4 linked regions of the Homo sapiens genome follow. The protein of the gene in region 1 interacts with the protein of each later gene in a pairwise test. Each region holds a gene or a part of one and is shown on either strand. Other genes may lie near its edges. The genes, in order: ERLIN1, SEC22A, AGR3 and SEC23A.

Region 1 (7,873 bases):
ATCAGCCTTTTTGGTTTTTAGAATTTCTGATTTAGGGGAGAAACTCATATCCTAAGTTAAATTAATACCAATGGATTTAATGAATTTTAATGCTGTTCAATATGTAGTCTTTTTTTTTTTTAATCATTGAGGAATGTGATTGATTCTTGGTAGATTTATCTTATATCTACAACTTGAATTCACTGCCTTCTAGTAATTTTTGGGTTACTATTTTTACAGTCACTATTATATTTTTTTCCTTTCCATATATTTATATACCATTTTTCTTCTTGAAAAACTACTCTGGCAAATTAGAATGATGAAAATGGTCATCTTTGATTTTTTTTTTCCTATGTTATTTAAGGGAGTGACTATATTATAGACTGGCTTTTGATATATAATATATGCTTAAAACCCAGGGGTCAGTTTCAATACATATATTCCTTTCATTAGCCATTTTTTTCCTCCATTCACTCTATGTATGTGAGTGGGATGGGGGCATTATTTTATTATTTGAGGTTAAGAGCAGAGGTTTAATAGGCAAAAGAAACAGAAAGGAGAATAGCTCTCTCTCCTGTGAGGGAGAGGGGTGCCTGAGTGGGACTTCCCACTTTTACTTTTAAAATCTCTTTTGATGCAACTTACTCATGGTATCTGTACAGTAAGTGTTTATGTTTTCACATATTTGAAAATCTGTGAGATTTCCCAAGATTGGCAAGCACAATGTAGTATGTTCTTCAGCCTCATTCAGCAAAATAGGAGTCTTCAAAAGACAGTCCTGGCCGAGTGTGGTGGCTCACGCCTGTAATCCCAGCACTTTGGGAGGCCGAGGTGGTTGGATCACCTGAGTTCAGGAGTTCGAGACCAGCTTGACCAACACAGTGAAACCCTGTCTCTACTAAAAAACAATACAAAAATTAGTCGGGCTTGGTGGCGCATGCCTGTAATCCCAGCAACTAAGGAGGCTGAGGCAGAAGAATCGCTTGAACCTGGGAGGCGGAGGTTGCAGTGAACTGAGATTGCACCACCGCACTCCAGCCTGGGTAACAAGAGCAAAACTCCATCTCAAAAAAAAAAAAAAAAGTCCTACTTTACGCTTCTTTTAATAAGGCTAAAAAGATATGTGGCCAGTCTCTTAATTAAATGCAGTATGACAGTGCTTCCTTGAATCATATTAATCCATATTGGAAGTAATCTTATGTCTGCTAGTCACATGGTGAAATCTGACATCTCACAAAATCTGGTCCTGAATTTTTATTTGTCTTCTGCATGTCTCCACTGAGTTGTGAGGCCTCACATGTGTCACTGCCAGTGTGTTGTGAGTTTTTTCCACACAGCCTTCAGCTGCTTATTCCATTCCACTGTAATCCTTATATTTAGTTATGATTGTCCTCAAAATTACCTACAAATTTGACTCATCTATTTCATATAGGAAATGCTATATCGCTTAAAAGTTTTAAAAGCCTTTAAAGAAGACTAAGTGCTTAAAGGCTTTGTTATTCTTAAAAGGTTAGCCAGTTTTCAGAAGGAAAACTTCTTCAGACCAGCAAAGTGTTTTTTGTGTGTGTTTGCAGTATAGGTGGGGCGGCGGGGTATCGTATGTTTAGTAAAATCAAAAGCTTTTGAGAGATCAAGTCCTTGATGTAGAAAAGTCAGCCTTCAAAAAACAGTACTGTCCAGGTAGATAATCTTAATTGTGTCAAAGAACACTATGATTAGGGAAACAAAGTGTCTGGTAAACAGCCTCTACAAAGACAGACTTTGTTCTAAGTGAGAGTTAAGGAAGAAAGAATATAAGCTTTTAATTGATATTTGTTTTCCTTCAGCCAGTGGGCTGTTTACTTACAGCAAATACCAAGTGATTGCAGGGGTTGGAAGTGATAGATTAATTTACTCACTACTCACTGTATTAAATTGTATACACCAACCTGGGTTTTTTTGTTTGTTTTTGTATTTGACTAATTGTTTCTGACTTTACAATTTCAGTCTTGGAACTTTGCCTTCCCGGCTTCTTTGGTTTACAGGGTTGAAAAAGAAAGCAAAAGTATCTAACGACCTTTGTAAAACATCTTTTAAGTGAGAACCTTTTTCATAAGGCAGTTGTTTCCTCAGTGGGTAGATGGTTTTTCCTGTAATCTGGCATTGTGTAAGGAAATAAGAAGCAGCTTGTCTTTGATTCTTGGTGTGATGGCATGAAAAGTAAATGTTCTGGTGGGATCCCCAAACGTGTTAGTAGGCCGCTATATTATAGCTGTTGTTTATTAGATTAGTATCATTTGAGGGGCTTTTCTGTAGAAGATTTAATTTGAAGATTTATCTTTCAAATATACTTTGGCTTTTTCACTTTTATTTTTTAGGCTGTGCGTGTTACAAAACCCAAAATCCCAGAAGCCATAAGAAGAAATTTTGAGTTAATGTGAGTAATATGCATGGGATCCCAATATTTCTGTTTAGGGCTGTCTGCATATTAATATTCCAGTCTAGAGGAAACATGTGAGACAATACACTCTGGGGTGGAGTATGTGTCTTATCTTCTTTACTCTTACTCTAGTAATATTGCCTATTCTTGTGTCTTAATTCCCACTAGACTCTTACTAGTGTTCTCTTTATGTATGGACATTTCAGGAGCAGTTTCAGTGGCTAAAGATGCAGTTTGCTGTAAAACTATTGCTGGAAGCTTAAGGAGCTATAATTTTATATGAATAGTACCTTGAATTAAATATTTAATAGAGGAAAGAGTCCTGAAGCCGTTAGGGTTGAAGAGAGTGCTCATATTTTGTTTCTGTGTTGTAATGGTAGGAATAGATACCTTGTTGGTATAAAGTTTGGTTTTCCATTGTATGTGATTGTATATCTAAAATTAGACCTGGTTCTTTATAATGTGCCTCTAGGGAAGCCTTGCTTCTGTTGACTCCTGGTAGTCTTCTCTTTTATGTATCCAGGGCTGACTGGGAATGAGAAGACATGAAATTAGTTTCTGACAGGATCCCTTTTAGGGGAATACTTACTGTGTTTGAAATGGCAATATTGTTTTCGTATGACTGGTACTGAAAAGAAGAAATAAAAGTCTTTAGGAAATTTGGCTGATGTGTTAAAAGGGAAAGTATAAGACGCTGGAAAAATAAATTTGCACAAGTCAAGGATACCACAGATGTATAAATACTGGAAGTCCAAGGAGCAGTAATACTACTTTATGAGGTTGTTTACTTCTGAGTCCTTTTTGTTACCATGCAGATTTTTATTGTTTTTTTCTTCTTTTATATTTTCCTTTTCCCTCATACCTTCTCTGAGCTCATACAGAGTTTTATTTCTCTTTTTCTTAATTTTTTTTTTTTTGAGACAAGGTCTTGCTCTGTTGCCCAGACTGCAGTGCAGTGGCACAATCACGGCTCACTGCAGTCTCAACCTCCCAGGCTCAAGTGATTAAGCGATCCTCCCACCTCAGCCTCCTGAGTAGTTGGGACTACCAGTGCATGCCACCACACCTAGCTAAATTTTGTATTTTTCATAGAGACGGAGTTTTGCCCTGTTGCCCAGCCTGGTCTCAAACTCCTGGGCTCAAGCAGTCCTCCTGCCTTGGCCTCCCAAAGTACTGGGATTACAGGCTTGAGTCACCACACCCAGCCTGTTTTCTCTTTTTCATTGTAGACAAAGAACTCTTCTTTTAAAAGTATAAAATGTAGACTGCCAGGCTGGGTAGATTATGGATGTGATCCACTTATTGAAAAAATATTTATAGGCGGGCTGTGGTGGCTTATGCCTATAATCATAGCACTTCAGGAGGCTGAGGCCGGCGGATCACCTGAGTTCAAGAGTTTGAGACCAGCCTGGCCAACATGGTGAAACCCTGTCTCCAGTAAAAATAGAAAAATTAGCTGGACATGGTGGCAGGCACCTATAATCCCAGCTACTGGGGAGGCTGAGGTAGGAGAGTCGCTTCAACCGGGGAGGTAGAGGTTGCAGTGAGCCGAGACCACGCCATTGCACTCCAACCTGGGCAAAAGAACGAAACTCTGTCTCAAAAAGAAAATTTTATTAAACTGTCAGCATGTCTTAGGCTTTAAATATGATTGCTTAGGCTGGGTGCGGTGGCTCATGCCTGTAATCCCAGCACTTTTGGGAGGCCAAGGTGGGCGGATCACGAGGTCAGGAGATCGAGACCATCCTAGCTAACACAATGAAACCCCGTCTCTACTAAAAATACAAAAAATTAGCCAGGCATGGTGGTGGGCGCCTGTAGTCCCAGCTACTCGGGAGGCTGAGGCAGGAGAATGGCGTGAACTCAGGAGGCGAAGCTTGCAGTGAGTCGAGATAGTGCCACTGCACTCCAGCCTGGGTGACAGAGTGAGACTCCATCTCAAAAAAAAAAAAAAAAAAAGATTGCTTCTGGTGACGGAAAAATGAATATTGTGTGTTTTCTGCTCTCAAATAAATCATAGTATTCAGACTGTCATTTGATGTCTTTATCAATGTTATCAGAGGAAAGGGGAAACTTTGAGGGGAAGTGTTTTGGGGAAACTATTGGAGTTACTTTTCAGATGATTCTGGATCTTTCTTAATTTTATGGACTATTGGAATTCCAGAATTAAAAGCTACCTTGGGATGATCCAGTATAACCTTGCACCTGATAGTAGTGTTTTCTTATACCATTTCTGCCACGTGGTTACCCAGTAGCTACTTGTACATGCTTAGTAATATGCCAGCCATTTCCATTACAGGTTTAGTACCCCTTATCCGAAATGCTTGGGACCAGAAGTATTTTAAATTTTGGATTTGTAAAGATTCTGGAATATTTGCATAGACATAATGAGATATCTCAGGGATGGGACCCAGGTCTAAATATAAAATTTATTTATGTTCTTCCTTGTTGGTATAGTGGTTAGTTTTTTTTTTTTAAGGTATTTTATTTATGTCCCATATACACCTATAGCCTGAAGGTAACTTTATAAAATATTTTAAATAATTTTGTGCATGAAACAAAGTTTACCTTAAGTGCTTATGTGTGGAATTTTCCACTTGTGTCATAATGTGGGCTCTCAAAAAGTTTCAGATTTTGGAGCATTTTGGATTTCAAATTTTCAGATCAGAAATGCTCAACCTGTATTAGACACTGGAAGCCTTAGAAAATTCTCCTTACTGTAAGCCCCAGTTTACTACCTAATAACTACCACCTAGTTATATCTTCTGTGCAACAAATATGGTCACTGCACATGGGTGCCCACCTGAGGAGGGCAGGGGCTGAAACCCAGCTTCATTCTGCATGTCAAACCATGCACCTGCAGGACTGTAGAAACGGCTGGTGCCGTTTTCTAATTGGCACAGAGCTGCTGTATGGACTAGCTGGAGGTCTAACAGCAAAGGAAGTATTGATATATTCCCTTCCAAATCACAGGCTTTACACAATACAACTAGGAGAAGAAAGCCAAACTAAAATTCAAATGTACTAAATTTTTTTCCTATCTCTGGGTGACTTTGGGCAAATCATTGAATCTTTCAACCTCAGATTTATTATAAGTAAAATAAAGTAACACCTCTCTTAACCTACCTTAATGGGTCCAAAAGCTCATGTTGACAAAACGGTTCTCTGACTCACTGTAGGGTCAGAATTACTGGCTGTGACTGCACATAGGAGAATCATTTCTAATTTTTATAACATTTTGCTTCACAGGGAGGCTGAGAAGACAAAACTCCTTATAGCTGCACAGAAACAAAAGGTTGTGGAAAAAGAAGCTGAGACAGAGAGGAAAAAGGCAGTTATAGGTACTTGGATTTCTCTGAAATGATTGTCTCTAAGTACATTTGTTTGTCCTGTTCTTTGTCAGTCTCATTTTGGGTATCATGGGACTCAGTAAGATTGCATCATAGGTAGTGGGGAATTCTGGAATCTCCACTGTACATTCAGATGTTCTAAAGCCTTTAAAAGTAGGTGAGACCAGTACTTAATGATGTGCTGTGGCTGTCCATCATGTTGTTAGATGCTACTGTTGTCTCTTTCAAGAACAGGGAGAATGGATAGGGTTTATAGGCAGCTTGAGTCTGTGGATAGCATTTTCATTTGTACAGATTAAGAATAGGGAAGTTTTTTGACCAAAGTTTCAGATTGTAGTATGCATCCTTGTTGTTGACATGCACTTAGTTTTACCTGGATAGGTAGTGCCGTTTATGAAAGCATGGCAGGATTGTTTACAGTTCATTTCAGATTACAGTGGCTTCCCTTATACTCCAGGTCACTGTGTATTAGATTGCCCTCTTTGGCCCTCGGTTGATGCTGAAAGTTTAATACATCTTTAATTAAATAATTCAATTATAGAGGAATGTACAGAGAACAATATAATGAAAGCTTAAGATTTTGCCTTATTCCCTTCAGATCTTTTTTTTTTTTTTTAAGAAAAAAATTAAATATCTGTTTGAAGCCTCCTTTGTATGTTCACTGGTCCTACTCTTTGACTTTTCTTCTCAGATTAACTTCTATTCTGAAGTTGATGTATATCCTTTCTGTCCATATTTTTATACTTTTACTGTAAGTGTGTAAGAGTTTATAAAATTGTTTTACCTGTTTGAAACTACAAAAATGTTACCAAACTCTTATTTTACAACTTGCCTTATTTTCACTAACATTGAGTTTTATTCATATTGATACATGTAGATCTAGGGATTTTTTCTTTTTTTGGCATTTTATCCTTATTCTCTGTGAGATGGTAGATCGTTTATGTTTAGCTGCTACATTTTTCGTTCTATGAGCGGGCCTAGTTTTATTGTAATGAATTACCAATGAGGAGTTAGGTAGTTTCTAGTTTTTCCTTATTACAAACACTGCCACAATAACATTCTTATCCAGTGCCTCCTGGATACAGTGTACATGTGCAGGTTTCCATAGAGTAGCATTACTCAGTGTATGGTGTGGGCCAGTGCCCTATCACCAGCTTTTTGTTTCTGAGCCTCAATGAGATGAGTATAGAAATTGAGAATGAGTGTTTAGAAGTTTTTATAGCATTTTAATACAGCAGTTTTATGTCTGTTGAATCAAAAATAAAAAATCAGAGCTTATATATTTATGTTTTTGTTTTTTAATTTCTTTTTTCTAGTACTGTAATTTGTTTTTGTTATAGTTTACAATTTATTGGTTCCTCATAAATTGAAATACACACACAAAAAGGTAAGGTATTTTTCCACAGGTGGTTTGAGAAGCACTGCTCTAGAATAGCTATCTCAAAGTAGAATTGATGGGTCATAGGGTAGCATGTCTTCACATTCAACATATTGACAAATTGCTCTCTCAAGTACTTCTTTGATTTTACCATCTCTTCAACAATATTTGATATCCAGTTTCTATGCTGCCATATTTGAATTCCCATTTCCACACATCCTTCTTGGTCCTTGGAGTTATCAGACTTAAAACTTTATGTCTGTTTAATGGAAGACATGGTATCACATAATTTCAATTTGAATTTCCCTGATTGTTAGTAAAGTTGAATATTGCTTATTGGTCATTCAAGTTTCCTTTTTTGTTGTTGTTATATGAATTGCCTGTTAATGTCCTTAGCCCATTATTTGATTGCTTTTTTGAGTTGATTTGTAAGAGTCCTTTCTGTCTCCTGGATACTGATCCTTTTTCAGATTTATGCATTTCCAACATCTTTCAATTTGTGGCTTGTCTTTGAACTTTACAATGTCTTCGATATACATATATGTGTAGTTTTTGTGTAGACAAATTCATTAGTCTTTTCCTTTATGTTTTGTGCTTTTCCTATCTTAAGAATTCTTTCCCTAGTCCAAAGTAAGACTTTTATTCTAAAAGTTTTAAAGTTTTGCTTTTCATATTTAAGTCTTTAGCCCATCTAGAATTTATTTTGGTGTTGAGTATGACATAGGGATTCAGTTTAATTTTTTCAAG
Region 2 (7,567 bases), on another chromosome or scaffold:
GTTCCAGAGTCAAATTTTACATACAATAATGTATGTAAACCCTCCCTTCAATTTTCATTTGTTTTTCTTCCCTTTCTGTTCATATTTCATTAACATGGCTGTATATGTCTTTTCTTGGTATGCTGCTTCAAGTGCTTTTGGGAAAGAGGCCAGGTATTAATGTAAATATATTTCAAATACAGACTGAAAAAAGCAAGCAAATATTGCAATTATCTTAGTATATAAAAGAGGGTATCTTCGCTCTCATGGTACACCTTAATCAAAAAGCAGTATTTAGGAATTATCTAAATTAAAATAAAATACACCTATTAGGATAAAATACTCCAGCAGCAGGCCTGGACTCACCAATTTCAGAACCCCTCAACTCCTTGGCTTTACCAAGAACAGTCATATTCCCTGAATATAACACTGGTCACCTTCACTAGTTCCATGCTAGTGCGAAGAGCCCTGCACTAGATCAGGGTTGTGTGTGCTTAGCTATGTGAACTGGCTAAGTCATTACCATCTGATCACCTCTGTGTCCTCCCCCTTAGAGTGAGGGCAGCTACTACTGCTCCTATGCTACAAAACTATGAGGAGGTAAACTCAGGCTTGCTCTTAGAAGTGCAATAGAAACAGAAGATCATACACCATGGAGGCCTAAAGTGATTCTTTCTAAAGAGCCTAAGGACTTTTTTTTTTTTTTGAGACAGAGTCTCACTCCGTCACCCAGGCTGGAGTGCAGTGGTGTGATCTCGGCTCACTGCAACCTCCGCCTCCTGGATTCAAGCGATTCTCCTGCCTCAGCCTCCCAAGCAGCTGGTACTATAGGCGCCTGCCACCACGCCCAGCTTATTTTTTTTGGTATTTTTAGTAGAGACGGGGTTTCACTATGTTGACCAGGCTGGTCTCAAACTCCTGACCTCGTGATCCACCCACCTTGAGCTCCCAAAGTGCTGGGATTACAGGCATGAGCCACCGTGCCCGGCCAGGACTTTACACCAATTTCTTTTTCTAAATTCAAAGTTCTTTTTTTGGCAGCAATGATACAGGTGGGGAAATGATATAAACACGGAGATACAGGCACCAAATAATGAAAGAAAACATTTCTATACATAAAACATTTATACCTGTTTTCATTTTTTTACATTAAGATGTAAACATCCTCTTATCCAAAATAGCCAGTGAAAAAATAAAAACAAAAACAAAGTAAGCCTTTAAAAATAGTTGGTGAGGAGTTTTCAAGTGTTCTTGCTGAATGTATCCGAATACCAAACATTGTAACTCGTCAATTCAATGACAAGGAGGTAGCTCCTGAACCAAACTGGTGCGAGCTGTGTCAATACAGAGCAAAATCTCAACCAGAATGCTCCAACTTCCCTATTTACAAGAAAATTCTGTTTTAACCATTAGTTTAGAAAACCTTTCTTTTTTGAGACAGAGTCTCGCTCTGTTGGCCAGGCTGGAGTACAGTGGCGTGATCTTGGCTCACTGCCAACTTCCACCTCCTGGGTTCAAGCGATTCTCCTGCCTCAGCCTCCCGAGTAGCTGGGACTAAAGGCACGCGCAACCACACCCAGCTAAATTTTGTATTTTTAGTAGAGATGAGGTTTCACCACGTTGGCCAGGCTGATTCTCAAACTACTGGTCTCAAGTGATCTGCCTGTCTCGGCCTCCCAAAGTGCTGGGATTACAGGCCTGAGTCACCGTGCCTGGCCTGAAACCCTTTCTAAATTGAACCACTTCACTTTCCTGGCTACAAAATGCCCAACACAATTCAATGGTGTTTTGATGATTCAGGATCTTGTGATGCCTTGGGGTATCTCTCAGAATATGCATACTTTTGTTAGAGGAGAAGACTGGAGCCAACTACTATTTCCTGTTTTACATGAATCCCTGATATCATAAGCTTATTGTCTTCCTTTTACCTCATTCTCCTAAAAGGAGGGTGCAGACTAAGGTTCTAGTTAAGCAAGATTTTACAGTTCTAGACATATCCACAAATACTGGTTCACGCAAACAAGACAGTTCACTAACTTTTTACCCTCTATTTCTCTACTTAATAAATATGCCTAGTAACAACAATTACAATGTAATGGGATCTGTTTTTCTGGATGATATCAAATTTCAGTATCCTATGAATTCCTTGTTTGAAATATTTTCTTTAAAAAACAAAGGAAAATCACCCATGAAGATGACTTCCAAAACCATGAGAGTTATAGATTTTGCTAGTGGAATCCAACTGTGCTTCCTATATTATTAATTCATAACTGCTTAAACAATCTTTAAAACGTTATCAAAAAACAAGTAAGTTCTCTCAGATACTAGGGGCTTAATTCCTCAAAGCCATAAAATAATGAGTTGCTAGGAAAGCCACCTTCTGATTCTTACTACAGTCAAGCATTTCCATAGTGCGGACCCATGCCACTGGTGGCACACAACATGTCTTTAAGTGATGCACAACATAGAATAATGCTGAATCACAGTGAGAATGTCATTCCCTTTACAGTTTCCTTTTATCCTCTGACTATTCCAGAGACAGTGCCTCATGCTGGTGCTGGTAACATCTCCCTCACTGCCACAAAGAAAGAGCCTAAGATTCGGAGCCTTTCTAGGCATTAGTTTCTAGCTAGAACTGAACAACATTTTTTGTGTTCATCTTACTTATTTTGTGGTTACCTTTTATTTATGGCAAACTGATACTGGTTTTCCACTTGGAGCAGGATTCATTTTTTTAAAAAAACTTTAAAATTTAAAAGATAAATATTAAGAAAATAATACAAGTAGTACTAAAGAGACTGAAGTTTGGGAAACAACGGCTATAGTGTGAGTCATATTTTTTAGACGTGATTTCAAAAGAAACAATAAATGTGGATTAGAAAGGAAACATCCATTACTGTATTTTCGATACTTGTGATGTTCCACAGACGAGCTCATCACAGTCTTCTTCTACATCAGGTGATTTCCAGAGTTAAGATTCAAGCAAAAATATAAAAGTAAAAAGAACCAATTTCACACCATCTTGGACTTTATAAACTCGTAGTACCATAAGTGTGCAAATAATCTGATATTTATCACAGTCATTTATTTAAAACATAAACTTTCCAATTTCTGCAGCTTTTTATTTGGTCTATACTAATGCCTCACAAAGGCAAACTCAGGTTGTAGAGTTCCTCCTGCCTGGTCCTCAGAGCAATACCACATCTATTTTCTGAACTCTTCAGGAAGGATTCAGGACTGCTGGCCAAGACTTCCAATGGCATATGACTGTTCTTCCACTGTTACGGCCTTGAAGAGAGAAATCCCCTCCTCCTCTGAATGATAGTCTCATGGCCAACATTCTTCTGAGAGGACTCTTCCATGCTCACAGGCACATCATGCTGATTTTAAAAAAGGAAAGTTGGAGAGAAAGAAAGCAGAGCTTCTCCTCTGTGGGGAACAGCTTCTTCATCACAGTGCAGTTATGATATGTTCCCTCCTTATCCCCCTGAAGCCAAGGCAATAGATCTGAAGGATGGTGTCAGACATCATAATCGGGAGCCTTGCCCTGGGCTTGCCTTAGCCAGATCTGTAGTGTAACAAATGCTCCCACAGTCACATGAAAGAAAAGCTGCCAGAGGTTGCGCAGTTCATAGAGATACATGTTGCATAGACAGATTAAGCCAAAAGTCAAAAAAGATTTGACATTCCGCCAGCCGGTGTAGTAGACAAGTAAATAACACTGTTCAAAATATAAAAATGAAAGATGATTAGGGTTACAGGAAAAGAAACAGATGTTTCTAATATAAAATTGTAACAGGTCAGAGAGTAAAATATAAGAATGGATAAGGTTATTTTTTATCTAGGGATAAGATAATGTAGCATATATCTAAGACATTCAGCTATGAAAGTTTCACAGTTTGAAAGGGAAATAGATTTTCCTCTTAAGTTTTTCATTTTTCAGAAGAAAAGCATTTTGTATCATATTTTAAATGGAAGTACAATGGAATGACTTCCTTGCAAACAGGCTGAGCAAATTCCCCATGGTGACAGGCAACTAAGAAGCATTCCCAGGGTCTGCGGGTGTTCCATTCTCACCCAGGAAAATACAAAAAAGCACATACAAGCTATTCTACAAAATGGACTCTTAATATAACCTGAGTCTGAGTATTAACAAAATCCACAACATTTTACTAGTCGCCCACTGAGTACAAGGAACTATGCTAGGTACAGCATCTGACTGAACATTTGAGGGAGAATTCATTCAACAAATATTTACTCAGGGCCTGCTACAAGTCAGGCATTGTTCTTCAGTTGTAAGTAAAACAAAGCCCTTGTTCATATAAATATTAAATTTTAATGGGGAAGAATTATAAATGTATTTTAAATATATAATATCAAACAGTTATGTCTTGAAAAAGAGAAAGCAGGAAAAAGGGATAGGGAGTAAGAATGATAGTGGGTGCTATTTTAGATGAAACGGTCAAGAAAGTACTCCCCCTCTCACCGCTCCTGCCCATCCTGGCATTCACCCTTTACTGCTTTATTTTTCTCCACAACATACTATAAACATACTTGAGAAATGTGCTTATTTTGTTTGTCATCCATAGGCTTTCAACAGAATCTATTTCATGAGGGGTGAGATTTTTTACTGTTATTTACTCATTTATCTCCAGTGCCCAGAACAGTGCCTGGGACATAGTAAGTGCTCAATGTGTTGAGTGAATAAACTGTTTTCTAGAAGATGTCTAAAATTCACAACCTGGTAAGTATAGGAACCACAAAGTCTAAGAGAGAGGCCCAGGTCTCTCTGAGAAACTGTGTCCAGGCTTCAGAATGGGAAGGACACACCAGTGTCTGTTATAATGCAGAAAGAATGTGGAAATGTTCTGTTAAATATGTTTAGTTCTTATGCAAATTTGGACTGTTTACTTAAAAAGAAGACTGCTATCCAAGCAAAATGAATTGGAAGTATTTATCAGTGATTTTCATCATATAAGACTGAAAAAATAGAAAAAAATAGCTTTTTCTTTCTAAACAATTTTAGAGTTAAAGATGCAAAAACAGTTTATTGTATACGCTTTGTTTACTGTATACTCTTCACCCTGTTCCCCGTTATCCTCTTATGTAATCATAGTATAATCATCAAACCAGGAAATGAACATTGATTCAATACTCTTAGCTAATCTACAGACTTTATTCAGATTTTGCCCATTGTCCCACTAGGGTCCTTTTTCTGGTCCAGAATCTAATCTGGGATTCTGTATTGCATTAATTGTCATGTATATTCCAATCTGTAACAGCTCCTCCATCTTTTTTTAAAAAAATTTTTGGCCAGGCATGGTGGCTCACACCTGTAATCCCAGCACTTTGGGAGGCCCAGGCAGGCGGATCACGAGGTCAGGAGATTGAGACCATCCTGGCTAACACAGTGAAACCCTGTCTCTACTAAAAATACAAAAAATTAGTCGGGTGTGGTGGCGGGCGCCTGTAGTCCCAGCTACTCGGGAAGCTGAGGCAGGAGAATGGCATGAACCTGGGAGGCGGAGGTTGCAGTGAGCCGAGATCACACCACTGCACTCCAGCCTGGGCAACAGAGCAAGACTCCATCTCAAAAAAAAAAAAAAAAAAAAAAAAATTCATGTCCTTGACAGTCTTGAAGAGTATTAATCAGTTATGTTGTAGGAATGTCCCTCAACTTGGGTGTGTCTGATGTTTTGTCAAGATTGAAATGAGGTTATACAATTTTGGCAAGAATATCAGAGGTGATACGCAATACATGTTATTACATATTAAATTAGATCACTTAATAAGGTGGTATCTATTCCCTTTGCAATTATTGTCTTGGGGGCAGGGAGTTGAGATTATGTGAATATCTTATCTCATCATACTTTTGCTCATTAATTTTAGTATCCATTAATGATTCTTGCCTGCAACAATGATTACTGTGGTGTTCGCTTAATGGTGATTTTATATTTCCATTTTTTATCTATATTTATTGCTTGGAATGCTACTGTAAAAATGAGCTAGCATTTCCAGTAATATATACACACACACACACACACACACACACACACACACACATATATTTAATTCAAGGTTTTCCAAGGCTTTTAAAATAATAGGTCTCTACCCCACATATTACTTATTAATTACAAAGAAGAAAAAGATATCTTTGCAATGGGGATCTGGTAGACACCATCTTAACCAAATGATCAAACTTATCACATTTCCTGACTGAAGCAATGAGAGATATTCAGCATATTATACTATACAGCACTGTTGCCAGAATATTTAACCTTAATATAATCACGAGTAACAGACTAATCCAGATTGTGGTACTTGCCTGAACTCTTAAAAAAGTCAATGTTAAGAAAGATAAAACCAAACTAAAATAGAACAACAACAAAAAGGCTGGGAGACTGTATCATAGATCAAAAGGTACACGACAATCAAATGAAATGCATAATCCTGGATCAGGAGAAATATAGCCACAGAAAACATTTTGGAGACAACAGAAATAATCTGAATAGGAATCATATATTAGATAATATTGTATCAATGTTAAATTCTTAGATGTGATATGAAGTCCTGGCTATGTAGACAGATGTCTGTATTCTTAGAAGATACATCATGAAGTATTTTAAGGTAAAAAATATCATGATGTCTGTAACTTACTTTAAAAACAACGGCTCAGGGACTTCTGTTTCTGGGAAGATGGAGTAGACACACTTTTCCCTATTTCTCCCACTAAGTACAAATAAAAACACTGGACATTATATGTAAAACAAGCATAAGAAGACTCTGAACTGTGGAGGAAAAGCAGACAAATAAAGAATCTTGAGATCCAAGAATGCCACAGTGGTAGGTTCTCTGAGTTTTCTTTTTTGCTTCATATATCCCAGACTTGGAGCTGAAGAAGCTGGCAACTAGAAATGCCAAGGCATGCATATCAAAACAAACAACAAAAAAGACCCTCAATAACATCTTGCTCTCTCTGGTAAAAGACCAGGAAAGAGGCACCTTAGCAAGACAGAAAACTTTTAAACAGTAACTATTATCCTCTAGCCAAACATCACACAAAAAACCCCTGTGACCCACCCATACCCACACCATCAAATGTTGAGAGCCTAGAACATTATAAGCAGATGTTTTAACCCTTCAGCATGGCTTCAGAAAAGGCAAGTAGAAGCCAGGACTTTCATTCCCACTAGATGGCAATGAATCCCTCCTCTACCCTCTTATTGTGATATCAGTGGAGAACACGTGGGACTCTGGACACCCACTTTCACTTGACAGTAACAAGATAATTCATTTCTCATCGGTAACAAGACAGTGGGATTCTCATCAGAAACCACAGAGGCCAGAAAAAAACTAGAACATTTCTCAAGTGCTGAAAGAAAAAAATACTGCCAAATCCAGAATTCTGTATTCAACAAAAATATCCTTTAGGAATAAAAGGAAAATAAAAACATTTATCAGATGAAAGATTAAGATAATTTGCTGCTAGCAGATCTACCATAAAAGAATGGTTAGAGGAAGCTCTCTAAATAGAAAGAAAACAATTAAAAAGAAGGAATCTTGAAACATTGGGAAAGAAAAAAGGACA
Region 3 (7,980 bases), on another chromosome or scaffold:
CAAGCACAGAAAATGTCAATTTGTACTTACAAGAATATACAATTTAGTTGACTTTTAGAAATACATCTTTGAAAACTAATTTTCATTGTGGATTTGTATATACAATATTTAGCCCTTAAGAAGAAGATCAACTAGAGGTGCTATATTCTCTTTCAGGAGATAATCTTCTATTAGAATTTTTGAAGCTATCAAAATAAAATGATTCCCTATGGAAAGATTCATAATTTCCCTAGAAACATACTTTATTCTATGGCTTGGTGCTTTTATGTCTGCAACTTATGAATATATTTATTTTTTCATGTTAAAACATAACTTTTAAAACTCGGATCACATTATAACACCTTATTTGCCATCTTAAAAATGTTCTTTATCCTCTAATCTCATGGTAAGACCACATCCATATTCTCCAGCCTGTTGAACGGAGCCAAATGCCCCACACATCACTCAAGAGCCCTACCACTCTTTCCTCCCCACACCCGTTATTGTCTCCCTCCTTTCCCTGCTTCTGTTACTCTCTGGCTCTGCTTTCTTCTTCCCATTTTCTGTATCTATTCTTCATCTACTTGAGAACTATTTGGGGATCTCACTTCAGATTTACCATGGCTGCCTCCCAGCTCTGCACAATCCATTTTAATTTTATTCATGTCTTCCAAAACAGGCCCTCCCTGACCTGGGCTGAGGAAACTGGCCAGGCTGAGTCCCTGATCTCCACCATGGCAGGAAAAAATGATATGCCTGTTTAAGATATAAAAGCATTTTTATGGGAAAAAGTACAAAGTTATCACGACAAGCTACAGGTAAGAGCCTGATTGAAGGACTTGAATCTCTAATCCAAAAGCTACATGCACAATTCTACTTAATCTTACTTAGCTCACAGGGCAAATACCAAGGAATAAATCTCATTTATATTTATATTGTAAAAATACCACAGGTTTATCAAGTGTTTAGATGTAATACCCTGCAAGTTCAGAGACTTTATGCTTAATGGAAATAAAACATTATTGTTTTGCAATGGGAAGTGTAACTAATTTTGACAGAGCAAGAACCTGTAGGTTACAGACATTGATTATGAGAGGCTTATAAAAACACTATGCATTTAAATGTTTGGTATAAAATTGCACAGCTCAATAATGAATTCTGGAGGTATCTATTCCTTTAACCCAAAGAGTCTTTTTTCTCCAAACCCAATATTTTTAAAAATAACTATTTGCCTCTACAGGATTTAGAAAACAGTGATACATAAATGCTCTCTGCAAGACATTATTCTCTTTCATTTACTGAATAGTTTCACAAATACCTGTCCTAATATGGTACAATCTTCAATATTATTACATAAAAAAGAGGTTCAGAAGTATTCATTGAATGGCACCATTTGTGTTAATATACAAACATAAATAGGTAGATGTATAAACCGTTATTGCCTCAAGAAGACCCATAGACTGGGCAAGAGGAATACCTACTTTCCACTGTCAGCCTTTTAAAATGTATATATATTTTCTTAGTAAGAGACTGATAAACTGAAATACAGACAAACAGATGGACACATACACACACACACACACACACACACACACACAAAGTGAATAGGTAATCCTAATCCTATATTTAACCAATGATTTATGTGACCAATTAAACTTGTAAAAATATAGAACAATGCCCTCAAAAGAATCAACTCCAAGAGCAAAACAGCTTGATTTATTATTAAAAGAGTATATAATTAGACACACTTATATTCTGTTCCTGAATAGAATGAAACAGAGAGGCCCTACAATTTTGTAGCTTGGAAATTTAATGAAACATTTAAAATAATTATAAGGCAAGATGACTTATGTTACTTGTTTTATCTTGTAAAATTTTCTGTTGAAGAAGGTACTCTAAGCAGAGGCTAAAAGACAATATTTGAGATAATATTTCAGTAAGATTAAAATTAGAATTAAAACTGTCCTCCAGTGAACTGAACTTTCTCAAATTACTGGGTAACCCATCGGCTATAGAAAAATTATTTTCTTAATTAAAAATAGGATGTAATATGACCTACAGGAAGAGTCAATTGAAGCTGTTGACAATTCCAAATCCATTAACCGTAAGATTGATTTTGAAGATTATTGCAGGCAATTTTATGAAAAAATAAATATGAGGTCACATTGAAAAAATAAAGACAGTTAATGCCAGAAAAATACCAGCCACCTGGTATCAGATAGGTACAGTTAAGAAAATGATTAACATAATTATATACAAAGAATAATTTGTATAATTTGCCATCATGTACATGAATATACTTTAAATAATTTTACTTCTAAGAATAATCTTTCATAGAACCATTTGTGATCTATTACACAATAAAACAAATTTTGGATGACAAATATATATTTCAAAATATTATTTTAAGATGCTATAATTCCAATGACTTTATTACCTCCTTTTACTTTCAAAATTGTCCTGGGTTAGAGGACACATTGCATTATCACCCTAGTGGGAGAGACCAAAAGACACTGATCAGCTCAGACATTATAGGGTCTAGTTTCACTACCCCACAGGTACTCGACTTCCTCTTTCTCACTCTTATCTTATAATTTATTTAAATGAATATTATGTGAGAAGTTTAACAGGGATGCAGAATATTTGGAGATTTTTCCGTAACCACTCTCAGTCAACAAGAAGTTGAAAGCTTTCCCAGACTTTTCACTAACAGAGAAATATAAGGATTATTGCCCAGCCATTTCTTTGCTTTGCAAAGGCTGGCTGGATTTAAAATTAAAATTATATGTCAAGTTTCATAACCTTCAGCAAGAAGGATTCCATTTGAATAGCATGTTCCAGGGAAGGGTCCCTTTGAGAATCCTATGTAAGGAAGAAAGCACAGTTAGACAAGTACACAAATCAGCAGTACAGTTAAAGAATATACAACCTAGCTACATGAAGTTTCTTTCAGGACAATGGAAAGTTTAATTAGGAAAACAGTAAAATTTTCTATAACAAATGAGAAAATCCATATGCCCATCTTTATAGAACAAAATCCAACAGTCCTGCTTTTAAGAGATGTAGTTTAAGAATAATGGTTACCTTCTTAACATGGTCAACTCAGCCAAATCCAGCACTACATCTAAAGTTAAAATACTGGAAGCACACCCGCTTTAACATCAGGAGCAAGACAATCATCACTCCCATTCTTGCACAGTATATTTGTTAATGTATTCAGAGCAATTAGACCCTTCCCCACAAAAAAAAGAAACAAAAAAAGGGTGGGAGAAGGGAGGGATGGAGGGATGGAGGGATGGAGGAAGAGAGGAAGGGAGGAAGAGAGGAAGGGAGGAAGAGAGGAAGGGAGGAAGAGAGGAAGGGAGGGAGGGAGAGAGGAAGAAAGGAAGCAAAGGAAGAAAGGAAGGAAAGAAGGAAGGAAGGAATTTATAAACAATACCCTGGATTAAGGTTCAACAAACATTTTCTGTAAACATTTACTAAAGATAGTAAATATTTTAGGTTTTGCAGATCATACAGTCCCTGTCACAAGCACAGTTGACCCTTAAACAACATAGATTTGAATTGTGTGGGTTCACTTAGAGAAGGATTTTTTTTTAATATATTCCTTCATATGGGCAAGTTCTGTATCCACAACCAAAAGTGGATCAAAAATACTGTGTTCACGGGATGCCAAACCTGCATATGCGGAGGACCAACTTTTCATATCTGTGGGTTACGCAGGGCCAGATATGGGACTTTGAGTGTGCACAGATTTTGGTATCCACTGTCCTGGACTGTACCGGACTTTGCTGTTGCAGTGCAAAAGTAGCCATAGACACTAGTAAGCAAATGCACATGGCTGCATGCCATCCGCCACATCTCTCTCTACTTAAGGACACTGAAATTGAATTTCATATAACTTTCACATGTCACAAAATATGATTCTTTTGGGTTTTTTTCCCCAACCGTTTAAAAATGTCAAAACCGTTCCTGTTTCCTGGGCTGTACAAAAAACAGGTATGCCAAATTTGATGACACACTGCCTTACGTTATTTTAACAGTAATTAAATAATTACTCTCAATTAATTCAACAGTATCTAACTATTAGATAAATTTAAACTTATCTAATGGCCTGTTTTTCTAATTTTTTGTGCAGTAAAGGTTTTATAGAAAAATTGTAAAGAATAATCAAATTATGAAAATGTTCAACTTTAAAACAGAATTTTTATTTCCTTCTCTCTCAAAAAAAAAAGGACCCAATCTCTTTAGCTGTTAATTATATTCCTGTAAACAGAGTAACCCTTAGGAATTTCTATTTGAACAATGGCATGCACACAGTTCTTAAATTCATTCCGTTTTCTTTCTTCCTTTTCTTTTTTTTTTTTGTGCTGAACTTCAGCCAAACATTAAACTACCTTGGGAAATAAAAGGTAAAAGAGAAAGAAGCACAAAGATGGTATTTGACCTTATTTTATGAGGACATTCAATCTTAATTTAGAGAAAAAGAATAGAGCTTTTTTAGTGTGAGAAGCATGAGAACTGGAAAGAAGTACAGAGTTTTTCAGACCAGCCTATTTTTCTAAGTTTGTTTTCCGGTAACTATGCTCTTGTTTCTATGCAGGTGAGGTTGTAGGTCAGGTGTGTGTGTGTGTGTCTATAAATCCACACCCATTTTTAACCAGAAACATCCAGAATACATTTCCAACAAGAGCACTGGCCAAGTCAGGTAAGCAAGCAAATTTTCCAGATTACTTAATCAGTGGTCAAGCTTTGCTATATTTAAATAATCACCTTTTGCTATTTAAAAGTGAAGCTTTCAGTAAAGGGTAGGAAAGTGAAATGAATTTTTATTTTTCTTCTTTTACTGAACTGGATTTCCTTTGCTGGTTTCATAGTTTTATCTCTATTTATATTAATGGTATTAGAATAAATTGACGTCAACCACAAAAACGACTCTTTGAAAAGTATTCTACAAGTAATGATAGCTCTTCTTTATATTCTTTTAAGTCTTGTTTTATTTTAAAATATAGGAACTTATAATATCAGTTACTTACGTTAAATTACTTTTGAAAAATAAAATACTAATGTCATAAAATGCTAATTGACCAATGTTTATACAATCTAATTGCTGACATATGGTTATGTGCCTCCCAAATGCATTTTAAGCTGCTGTAGGCCTGTAACCATGCCACATTTATCTGTGTTCCCCCAAGTAGCTTAACCTTGCAACTGATACTAAAGGACCCTCAGCAGTTTACACTATATTTTACCAAGGAAAGCGTTATTTATTCAAAATCTACAGTGTACAAGTTGTACTGCTTTGTCACAGAATATATTTAATATCTATTTTATAATTTATCAATGTAAAACCAGAAAACCAAGATTTTTATTTTTTAATTAGAAAGTATTTGACAATAATACATAAAGACTTGAAATTTTAAAGAAAAAATGGTTCCCGCTTAACTCTAAGCTTCGCAGCTTTAAAATAGCAAAAATGATGAGGTTATGCTTTTTCTTTTTTAAAATGCAGATTCCACCTGCTTGTCTCTGTAGCTAACATAGAAAAATCTTTCTAAAGATTCCTTCCAGATTGACTTTTCTTAACTCTTCTTTATATCCAAGATCCCTGGAAGAATTTTAATGACGTTTTGGACCCTATTCCCACGGAAAAGGAACAGAGGCAGATAAAATTTTGCACACAATTTCCAGGGGTTTTGAGCCTTCTGTAGCTCAGCCACAGGCCTTCTAGAAGCCTGCTGGATCCAGGTTAAGATCCTGTCCTAGGTGGTTGCTTTAGTTCCTCCACTGCAACTCCCAACCTGTCTAACTAAGGCTGCCTTCCCTGGGTTGAGCTTTGTGTTCCAGAGTCAACTGTCCCTGTCCTGTACTAAAATCCACCCTGTATTTGTTTCAGTCTTTAAAGTACAAGATGACCAAGGCCTTAAGGTACAAGATGACATTCTGAAATGTTTTATGGTTTAATAAGTTATGAGAACTTAAACTGAAATTCTTATCAGGCACCGTGATAATTGTTTAACAGGGTTTTTATATGCCTGGAAAGAAAGGACAGGAAAGGAGGGGAAAGGAGGGGAGAGGAGGGGAAAGGAGGGGAAAGGAGGGGAGAGGAGGGGAGGGGAGGGGAGGGGAGAGGAGGGGAAAGAGGAGGGGAAAGGAGGGGAAAGGAGGGGAAAGGAGGGGAGAGGAAAGGAGTCCGGGCGATGTAGCTCACCCTTGTAATCCCAGCACTTTGGGAGGCCGAAGCAGTTGGATCATTTGAGGTCAGGAGTTTGAGATCAGCCTGGCCAACATGGTGAAACCCCATCTCTACTAAAAATACAAAAATTAGCCGGGCATGATGGTGGACACCTGTAGTCCCACGTACTTGGGAAGCTGAGGCAGGAGAATCGCTTGAACCTGGGAGGCGGAGGTTGCAGTGAGTGGAGATGGCCCCACTGCACTCCAGCCTGGGTGACAAGAGCAAAAAAAAAAAAAAAAGAAAGAAAGGAGAGAGAAAGAAAAGAAAGAAAGAGAGAGAGAAAGAGGAAGGAAGGAAGGAAGGAAAGAAGGAAGGAAGGAAGGAAGGGGAAAGAAGGAAGGGGAAGGAAGGAAGGGGAAGGGAAGGAGGGAGGGACAACTGGGGATTAGGGAGGGAAATAAAGTAAGGTTAACCTGGAGTGGTAACTATTTTCAGTCCATAGAGGGGCTGCAATAGATACACCACTGGGAAGGGGAAAACAGTATAATGGGAGGAATGAGGAAATGTCTGGAGAAATCTAGAATCTGTAAACTTCTTTACCACCAAATTGTTGTTCTCCTCCACGACTGCGGTTGCTACTTTACAATAACTAGGTGATTAAAATTGCCAAATGTTTTACCAATGCCAAAACATTGTGTCTTATATATCTTTTCATTTTCCACAATGCCTACTACAATAAAATATAGCAACATCTTTGTTTGAACAGAATCACTAAAGAATCAGTCACTAGCCATTTTGGCTAAGGAAATTTTACTATTTTGGTGATGAGTTCAATACTAAATAATGTAAGCCAATAGGAAAGACGTCTTAAAGGAACTTCAAATCAATGTGAATGATGTCTGTATATTTATTTTATATTTTGAGGTAAAGTTTCAAAACTGCATGAGTCAACCATTTTCAAATCAGTTTTATATGCTAATGCTGTAACTAAACATCTCACAAGTATTAAAGACTTCCTGTAATATATTTATCAAGTGGTTTATGACCAGATCAGGCCCAACTTTGGACTTCAGTTTTTATCTTAACGTGCAAAGTATAAAAGATGCACATTGAGTTAAGAATCAGTTTGAATTCTAGCTAACCAGGAGAGAATGTAATCATGACAGTCTATTCTTCTCTATACATATGTCTAATTTATAGTAATATGATAGTACTTGATTTTTATAAAGAGCTGTATCATAAACTGAAGGGCAAAAGTCTGAGTAATTGTTGGAAGGATGAGAAAGGTAAGAAACTATAAAGGAACTGAAGGACAAGAATCCTCCATATTCTATTTTTCCTCTGATTTCTATTTTAAGCAATATTTATTCATGTATAATCTTATCTTAGTATAGAGTTAAAATATTTTGACCTATTAGATGAAGGAGAATCAAAAGGCAAAGAATATTTCTGCATGCTAAAAGTCACTTCATAGTTTACAAGACATCAAACAACATGATCTTATTTGAGTTTCGTCTTGTTGGTGTGAACACTACAGGGCGGTTCAGAAGCAGGCTTCGTGTGCCCTGATCCAGCTCTTTTTTAATTATACAGCACCATGCCCAGGAGGCTCAGAACATGACTTCTCACCAACTGAGCATGTACTGAGTTGATTAAGTATTTTAAAAATAAAATGTGAATGAAAGTTCTATGTGGTTGGTTATACCATGTCAAACCAAAAAAGCTGAACAGTCTGTCATCACAGTATTGGTCCAACTCTTAGCAAATATCTTCTAATAATAGCTTGAAGTAATTCACTGGATTCTGAGAATTCCTTTCTGTCA
Region 4 (7,873 bases), on another chromosome or scaffold:
GATTATTTTAATTTTATTGATATTTGCTGTATATATGTGTGCATATATATATTTTTGAGATGGTTTCACTCTGTCACTTAGATTGGAGGGCAGTGTTGTGATTGTGGCTCACTGTATCTTTGACCACCTGGGCTCAGATGATCCTCTCACCTAAGCCTCCTAAGTAACTGGGAGTGCAGGCATGTGCCACCACGCCTGGATGATTCTTTGTATTTTTTGTGAAGACTGGGTTTCACCATATTGCCCAAGCTGGTCTTGAACTCCTGGACTCAAGCCATCTGCCGCCTCAGGCCTCCCAAAGTGCTGAGATTACAGGCGTGACCTACTGCACCCAGCCAATATTTACTATATGTTAAAAGTTATATTCACCATTTAGGTAAACTTGTATATGTTAAAAGTGTGAATTAGATATTGGCAGTATCTAAAACTACATGGCTTTTAAAAGTTACTTTGACTATCAATTTGAATATGTTCATGTTTTAGGAAGAAATTAATTTTATTGAAATTAGGATTTTTGTAAAATTGAACTGAAATATGAACTGATATGTCTTTTCTTTTTTTTTAAAACAGTCAAGTGGATTATCGAGCAAAACTTTGGGCTTGCAACTTTTGTTACCAAAGGAATCAGGTAAGAAAACATCCATTGCATGCCGGGCGCAGTGGCTCATGCCTGTAATCCCAGCACTTTGGGAGGCCGAGGCGGGTGGATCACGAGGTCAGGAGATTGAGACCATCCTGGCTAACACAGTGAAACCCCGTCTCTACTAAAAATACAAAAAAAAAATTAGCTGGGCGTGGTGGCAGGCGCCTGTAGTCCCAGCTACTCGTGAGGCTGAGGCAGGAGAATGGCATGAACCCGGGAGGTGGAGCTTGCAGTGAGCCGAGATTGCACCACTCTACTCCAGCCTGGGCAACAGAGCAAGACTCCGTCTCAAAAACAAACAAACAAAACAAACAAACAAACAAATGAAAAAAAACCCATAAAACATCCATTGCAGATGTTAATGCCAAAATACTAGTCATGTAGAAAAATGCATATTTAAAAAAAGATACAAATAATTATTTCTCATTTAATGAAAATGCCTTTTTAAAAATAATTAAATGATCAGGAAATACTTTGTTTAAAATTTTATTAATCTTTCTAGCCTATAATTTGTTAAAAATTTTTGTTTGTTTTCTATTTGTAGTTTCCACCTAGTTATGCTGGTATATCTGAACTGAATCAGCCTGCTGAACTTTTACCTCAGTTTTCTAGCATTGAATATGTAGTTCTGGTAAGAACCTAAGAACAAATATTTAAGAAAGTTTTAAAATTTATACTGAAAGAATTGTTAAATTATGATGATTTAGAAGGAATCATGCTTAATTCTCACATTGATTTGATGGAACATTTCAAAGGTAAGAACTGTTGAGGTCAGTTTGAGCAGGGTAATTCCTATGTTGTACTTATTTGATGGGTGGCCAAGATACTGGGTAGGGTGGTGTGATTTGCTATACTGAGTAGATCAGTAAACAATAAAGTATAAATCTTGCTTTGTAGTTGGAAGGTCAGTTAACAAATATTTAGTCAATATGATGCTGGAGTTGGCTAATGTATCCCCCAGGTCTAATTAATGAAAATAATCTTGCATTGGTCTTTAGGAAAATCATTTTTATTCTCTTTCTGAATACTTAACCATAGTTGTTTACATGTTTTACTGTGGAAGTAATATCTTTTATGAATGTTTTAGAGAAAACAATTATGGTTCACTTGGACCATTCAGTAATTTGTCCAGCCTGGCTAGTTTCTAGTTATCTGAAAATCCAAGTCAGGTTTACTAATTATTTTAAAAGAGTCAAATGAAACCTTATGCATGTAGTTAAATAAAATGGAAAGTGAAAGTCCCCTCTGTGTAACTATACCTCATGTTCTTAAACTTAATTTTTCACCTGATGATATGTCTTAGATCTCTCTCCATGACAGTAGAAATAACCTGTTTCATTTCTGAAATGGCTTTACTAGGATTCTTTTGTATTCGTTATTTAATTAGTTCCCTGTTGACTGTCTTGTATGCTGTGCTTTAAACTACATATTTTTTCTTTTTGGTGAATTTTTTAAAAGCGTGGTCCTCAGATGCCTTTGATATTCCTCTATGTGGTTGATACTTGCATGGAAGATGAAGATTTACAAGCCCTGAAAGAATCCATGCAGATGTCATTAAGTCTTTTACCACCTACAGCTTTGGTTGGACTTATTACTTTTGGGAGAATGGTTCAGGTTCATGAACTTGGATGTGAAGGCATTTCAAAAAGCTATGTCTTCAGAGGAACAAAAGATTTGTCTGCCAAACAACTGCAGGTAAACAACAAGAATGGTAGTTTTTACCTATCTGAAAATTACTCTATATATGTTTATAAATGCCTTCTGTATGTTTCTAGGACAAATTTTTATTATGAATAACTAATATAATTGTATTATAACAAAGGCTTTAAATTCAGTGCTGGCTTCAGTTTTCTTTTCATGTGCCTTAAATTGTTATACAGATTAAACACCCTTCACTTTTAACTATATCTTTAAAATTTAAAGTCAAACCAACAGTATTTTACTAGAGATTTGAAGGGCTTATGAAGAGTCATGCTGAAGGCTAAGAGAGAGCAACTGCAGAATATTAGCTTGTTTCTTTTTTTTTTCTTAAGAGTTCAGCTTTTTTATTGAACATGTTATAAAAGAGGTTTAGTCAAAAAGACCAAAGTCCATGTCATCATCATACTCCTCAGGTTCTTCTTTCTTTGTTTCCACTTTCTTTTCCTCAGCTGGGGCAGCAGTGGTGGTGGGGGCAGGACCTTCTGCAGGTGCAGCACCAACTGTTGGAGCAGGTCCACCAGCCCCTACATTGCAGATGAAGCTCCTGATGTTGACATTGGCCAGTCCTTTGCAAACAAATCAGGCCAGAAAGGTTCAACATTTATATCAGCTGCTTTAACAAGGGCATTGATCTAATCCACTGTGATGGTCACCTCATTGTCGTGCAGAATGAGGTCCAAGGAGATACAGAAGAACTTGAGATGGAGGCCATGATGTGGGCGAGTGCAGGGCTGGTGCTGCCTGACATGGTGCTAGTCACCTGATGAAGTGAGGGTCTCACCCCAGTGTGGTCTTGGCTTCCTCATAAGAACCGAGAACCTTGGTGGCAGCTGAGGAGAGAGCTTTTATTTCTTAACATTTCACTTAAGAACTAAATACTTTTAGTATGTTTGGTGAGGGAAGTTATTTTGAGACTGGACGATTTTTAGTGTAGGAACTATGGTTACATATGTTTTTTAGTGGTTTTTATCACTGGGACAAATTGAAGCTTTCTCTTCCAAGGCAAAGGAGTTATGTGTAGCATACTAGGATCATCTGCTCAGATGAACATCTTTTTTTCTGCCCAGAGATTTTGATAGTCCATAAGAGAGTAATAAGTGAATGTCTGTTTGTATTGGGGGATAGTTGGTATATATACCTTATATATATAATATAAGATTGTTCATGTAGGTACTTTGAAAAAACTTTCTAAGTAATTCTGGTGCAACTCCTAGTTGAGAACATTTACCCTAGAAGATGATAGATAAGCCTGGCATAAAGTTGACAGATGTAAAATCAGACTTTAGAGGCTTCCAGGTAGACCAAAATGAAGAAGAAAGGAAGAGATTTTTGAGGGTGAGTCTAATTTGAAACTTGGCAGACTGAGGTAGTGGTGCTGCAGTTAACTAAGAGAACATACTAGGGGAATTTGCAGGTTTAAATGGGGAGGATAATGAGTAATGAATGCGTTAGTCAATGAATAGTGAATAAGATTTGAGAAGGTAGAGAAAGTTGAAATTTGTTCTTTTTCTTCTGAGACAAGAGTCTCGCTCTGTCACCCAGGCTGGACTGCATTGGCACAATCTTGGCTCACTGCAACCTCCGCCTCCCGGGTTCAAGCTATTCTCCTGCCTCAGCCTCTCGAGTAGCTGGGACTACTGGCACCCGCCATCATGCCCAGCTAATTTTGGTATTTTTGTAGAGACGTGGTTTCACTATGTTGGCCAGGCTGGTCTTGAACTCCTGACCTCAGGATATCCACCTTCCTCGGCCTCCCAGAGTGCTGGGACTACAGGAGTGAGCCACCGTGCTCGGCCTGAAGTTTGTTCTTTTAAGAGGTTTGTTGAAGGTAATGAAGGAGGAGATAGCATGGGAATTTGAGAGAGAACTGAGTTAAAGAGATGTACTTTAGGAGGAAGGAGAAAGGAAAGAGACTAAAGAGGGTGAGTTAAAGCAAGAGTGAGATGAGGAAAGTCAGGTTTAGGAAGACATAGTAGGGATTCCTTCAGGAGCACAGGAAGCGGAGTACCTTAGAGAGGAGAATCATGTTTCCATGAGACAGGAGAGAAAGTGAACCAGTTGAAATCTCTGTGCTTTAGTTTTTTTCAATTGTAAAATAGAGATAGTAATAGTATATACCTTATAGTGTAGTCATGAGAATTAAATGAATTGTACATTTAAGCATTTGCTACTATTAATGTTATTATTAAATTATGAATTTATTTAGAATAGTTTACTGTTCTGATTGTAGAGTACCTTTTACTTATATAATGCATATGAAGCACATAAAACATCTTCCTTTTTTTTTCTTTTTTTTTTTTTTTTTGACACGGAGTCTTGCTCTGTCACCCAGGCTGGAGTGCAGTGGCATGATCTTGCAATCTCCGCCTCCTTAGTTCGAGCGATTCTCCTGCCTCAGCCTCCCGAGTAGCTGGGACTACAGGCGCATGCCACCACACCCGGCTAATTTTTTTTTTCTGTATTTTTAGTAGAGACCGGGTTTCACCATGTTGGCCAGGATGGTCTTGATCTCCTGACCTCGTGATCTGCCTGCTTTGGCCTCCCAAAGTGCTGGGATTACAGGCGTGAGCCACCGCGCCTGGCCAATTTTTGTATTTTTTAGTAGAGACAAGGTTTCACCATGTTAGCCAGGCTGCTTGAATTCCTGAGCTCAGGTGATCCCCCTGCCTCAGCCTCCCAAAGTGCTGGGATTACAGGTGTGAGCCACTGAGGCCGGCCTAGTTTTTTTTTGTTTGTCTGAGACAGAGTCTCGCTCTGTCACCCGGGCTGGAGTGCGGTGGCACGATCTCAGCTCACTGCAACCTCTGCCTCTTGGGTTCAAGCGCTTCTCTTGCCTCAGCCTCCCAAGTAGCTGGGATTACAGGAGCATACCACCATGCCTTACTAATTTTTGTATTTTTAGTAGAGTTGGTGCTTCACCATGTTAGCCAAGGTTGGTCTTGAACTTCTGACCTTGTGATTTGCCCACCTTGACCTCCCAAAGTGCTGGGATTACAGGCATGATCCACCGCACCTGGCCCTAATTTTTGTATTTTTAGTAGACATGGGGTTTCACCATGTTGGCCAGGCTGGTCTTGAACTCCTGACCTCAGGTGATCCACCCGCCTCGGCCTCCCAAAATACTGGGATTACAGCTGTGATTCACTGCGCCTGGCCACATCTTCCTTTTTTCAATAGGCAAGTGAATGCCTGCAGACTGAATTTTTTTTCTCCATTGAAACATGTTTATTTTCTTTCCCTATTTAGATTAAATTTCCCTATTCTTTCCCTATTATTAGTTGAAAAGAGCCTGGCCTTTGCTCCCCAGATAGTCCTGGATTCAAATCTTAAACTCTTCTGGTTGTATGATCCTGGGTTTTTGTCTTTGCTGATTGTGTCATCCTTCATAGAAAGGAATAAACTACCTATTTTGCCAGGTTATTAGTACTAAATATGAAATTCTCAATATGGTGTAAACCCTTATAGAGCTTTATAGAAAAACCTGGATTTAAAATCTTGCTTTGTTACTTACTGATTGTGTAACCTCAGACAAATTACTTAGTCTTTCTGATTGTCAATTTTCATTTATAAAGTAGAATTTAAGAAGAAATCTATTTCATTATTGTTTTGTGAGGAAATAGTATATATAAAGGTTTTAGCATAGAATATGGAACATATTAAGTTCTTAGTAAAGAGTTGCTGTTTCTGCTAACAGTATAGGAAATATTGCAGGATTAGTTCACTAATTTTATCTTTGTACATCTTTAGACTTCAGTTTTCTGTTACACAGTTTTATAACTCCAGTACTTCATGACTAAGCATTTCTAGATTCAAGAAAAATTTAGTATAACATTATTTTCATTTGTCTAGAGAGAAATTGTGCACATATCTGAAATTCAAAACAAAGGTGGCAGTTCGTAGTTTGGTTATGAATTACATTAGAAAATCAAGATGTATATAGGTACAAAGTACGTGAGCCTTATAACTCCCCAAGTCCTAACATTTACTACTGTTGCAATTTTACATTTATTTATCTGTTGATTTGATTAATTTATGTTTCTGGATTTTAATTTCCATGAGGGAAGGGACTAGTTAGTTTTTACCATTGTATTCCTGCCACATAGCAGGTGCTTATGATATAGTTTGCTGAAACGGATGAATGAATATAAATTAAGAAGTATGGACATTTAAGTTACACAACAATTTATTTTGACTGTTAATTAGAAATAAAGTGTTTTTGAGCTAATATGCCTCCTCTTTGGTTATATAACACCTTGTGCTTTTCTCTCTCATGATGATTATTTTGTGTTATTGTTTTCTTGATAATCTCTCCCACTGGATTCTTTGTTTTCTGAGGAAGGAGACCTTGTATTTTTTATTTTTGTGTTTCTAATGTCTAGCACAGCATTTTATACATGATAAATAGTTGATAAATCTTTGTAAAAGTAATTAAATGAATATTGCACAAGTAATCTCTTTACAGGAAATGCTGGGGCTCTCTAAAGTACCACTTACTCAAGCAACACGTGGTCCTCAGGTACAGCAGCCACCTCCTTCCAACAGGTAATAAATATGATGAAGAGAATTTGACCGTTTCTGTAGCTATTTTAAACATTCCATACCCTTGAACATAGGCATTCAGTGATACTATATTGTTAAATATTTTTAGGAATATAAGTAAATTGTATTAACATACTTTTTAAAGAATTGAGTCAAAATCATGTCATTAAAATGGTTTGTTTTTTGTCTTAACAATGTAAGGAGTTACTTTAGTTTTGTTATTTTCCTTATTTTTTATTTTGAACTTTGGAAAAAACTTGTTTTTGTGTGGTTTTAGGGCAGCCAAGGTTTTTATTTTTTCTTCTTAGCTTTAGAGGTAGCTTTTCCCGCTAAGGTTTCTGGAGTGCAGTGGCATGATCTTGGCTCACTACAACTTCCGCCTCCCAGGTTCAAACAATTCTCCTGCCTCAGCCTCCCAAGTAGCTGGGATTACAGGCATGCACCACCATGCCTGGCTAATTTTTGTATTTTTTGTAGAGACGGGGTTTCACCATCCCAATCTCCTGACTTTATGATCCTCCCTCCTCGGCCTCCCAAAGTGCTGGGATTACAGGTGTGAGCCACCGCGCCCTGCTAGCTTTTTCCCCTAAGCTTTCTAATCAGAGGTAGTATTACTAAAATTTAGTTGATGTATTTTCTCATAATTATTTCAGTAACCTAAAACTTACTAGACTAGTGAGAGATGAAATCCTGAAGTACTTGGTTTGAGTGTTTCGTTTATTGTGGTTGTATTCAAAATGTGGTTTCTGGGGCTGTTATCATCACGTGTCACCTAGGAATGCGTTTGAAATGCAAATTCTTCGGCTCCACTCCAGACCTACCGAAACAAACTCTAGAACTGGGACCTAGCAATATGTGTTAAAACAAGCCCTCCAGCTGGTTCTCATATACACGAAAGTTTGAGAACCATTGGTCTGCTGTGTGTTCAGAGTGTTGTTTTCTATTTTTAGGAAAGTGAAATTTGTTTATCGAACTCTCACCCATAAACAT

Evidence for each region.
Region 2: the proteins of ERLIN1 (region 1) and SEC22A interact in binary tests that used the Homo sapiens proteins (3 or more experiments, as listed by UniProt).
Region 3: the proteins of ERLIN1 (region 1) and AGR3 interact in binary tests that used the Homo sapiens proteins (3 or more experiments, as listed by UniProt).
Region 4: the proteins of ERLIN1 (region 1) and SEC23A interact in binary tests that used the Homo sapiens proteins (3 or more experiments, as listed by UniProt).

The regions. Positions count from the first base shown.
Region 1 is NC_000010.11:100,161,870-100,169,742, reverse strand, and holds part of ERLIN1 (erlin-1), read left to right. Parts: intron 1-2,336; coding exon 2,337-2,395; intron 2,396-5,647; coding exon 5,648-5,739; intron 5,740-7,873. UniProt on the Homo sapiens protein: Component of the ERLIN1/ERLIN2 complex which mediates the endoplasmic reticulum-associated degradation (ERAD) of inositol 1,4,5-trisphosphate receptors (IP3Rs).
Region 2 is NC_000003.12:123,267,655-123,275,221, reverse strand, and holds the end of SEC22A (vesicle-trafficking protein SEC22a), read right to left. Parts: intron 3,701-7,567; coding exon 3,500-3,700; 3' UTR 1,086-3,499; downstream 1-1,085. UniProt on the Homo sapiens protein: May be involved in vesicle transport between the ER and the Golgi complex.
Region 3 is NC_000007.14:16,878,651-16,886,630, reverse strand, and holds the start of AGR3 (anterior gradient protein 3 precursor), read left to right. Parts: upstream 1-4,647; 5' UTR 4,648-4,687; intron 4,688-5,875; exon of another isoform or gene 5,876-5,907; intron 5,908-7,980. UniProt on the Homo sapiens protein: Required for calcium-mediated regulation of ciliary beat frequency and mucociliary clearance in the airway. Might be involved in the regulation of intracellular calcium in tracheal epithelial cells.
Region 4 is NC_000014.9:39,085,942-39,093,814, reverse strand, and holds part of SEC23A (protein transport protein Sec23A), read left to right. Parts: intron 1-570; coding exon 571-628; intron 629-1,187; coding exon 1,188-1,274; intron 1,275-2,101; coding exon 2,102-2,338; intron 2,339-6,806; coding exon 6,807-6,886; intron 6,887-7,873.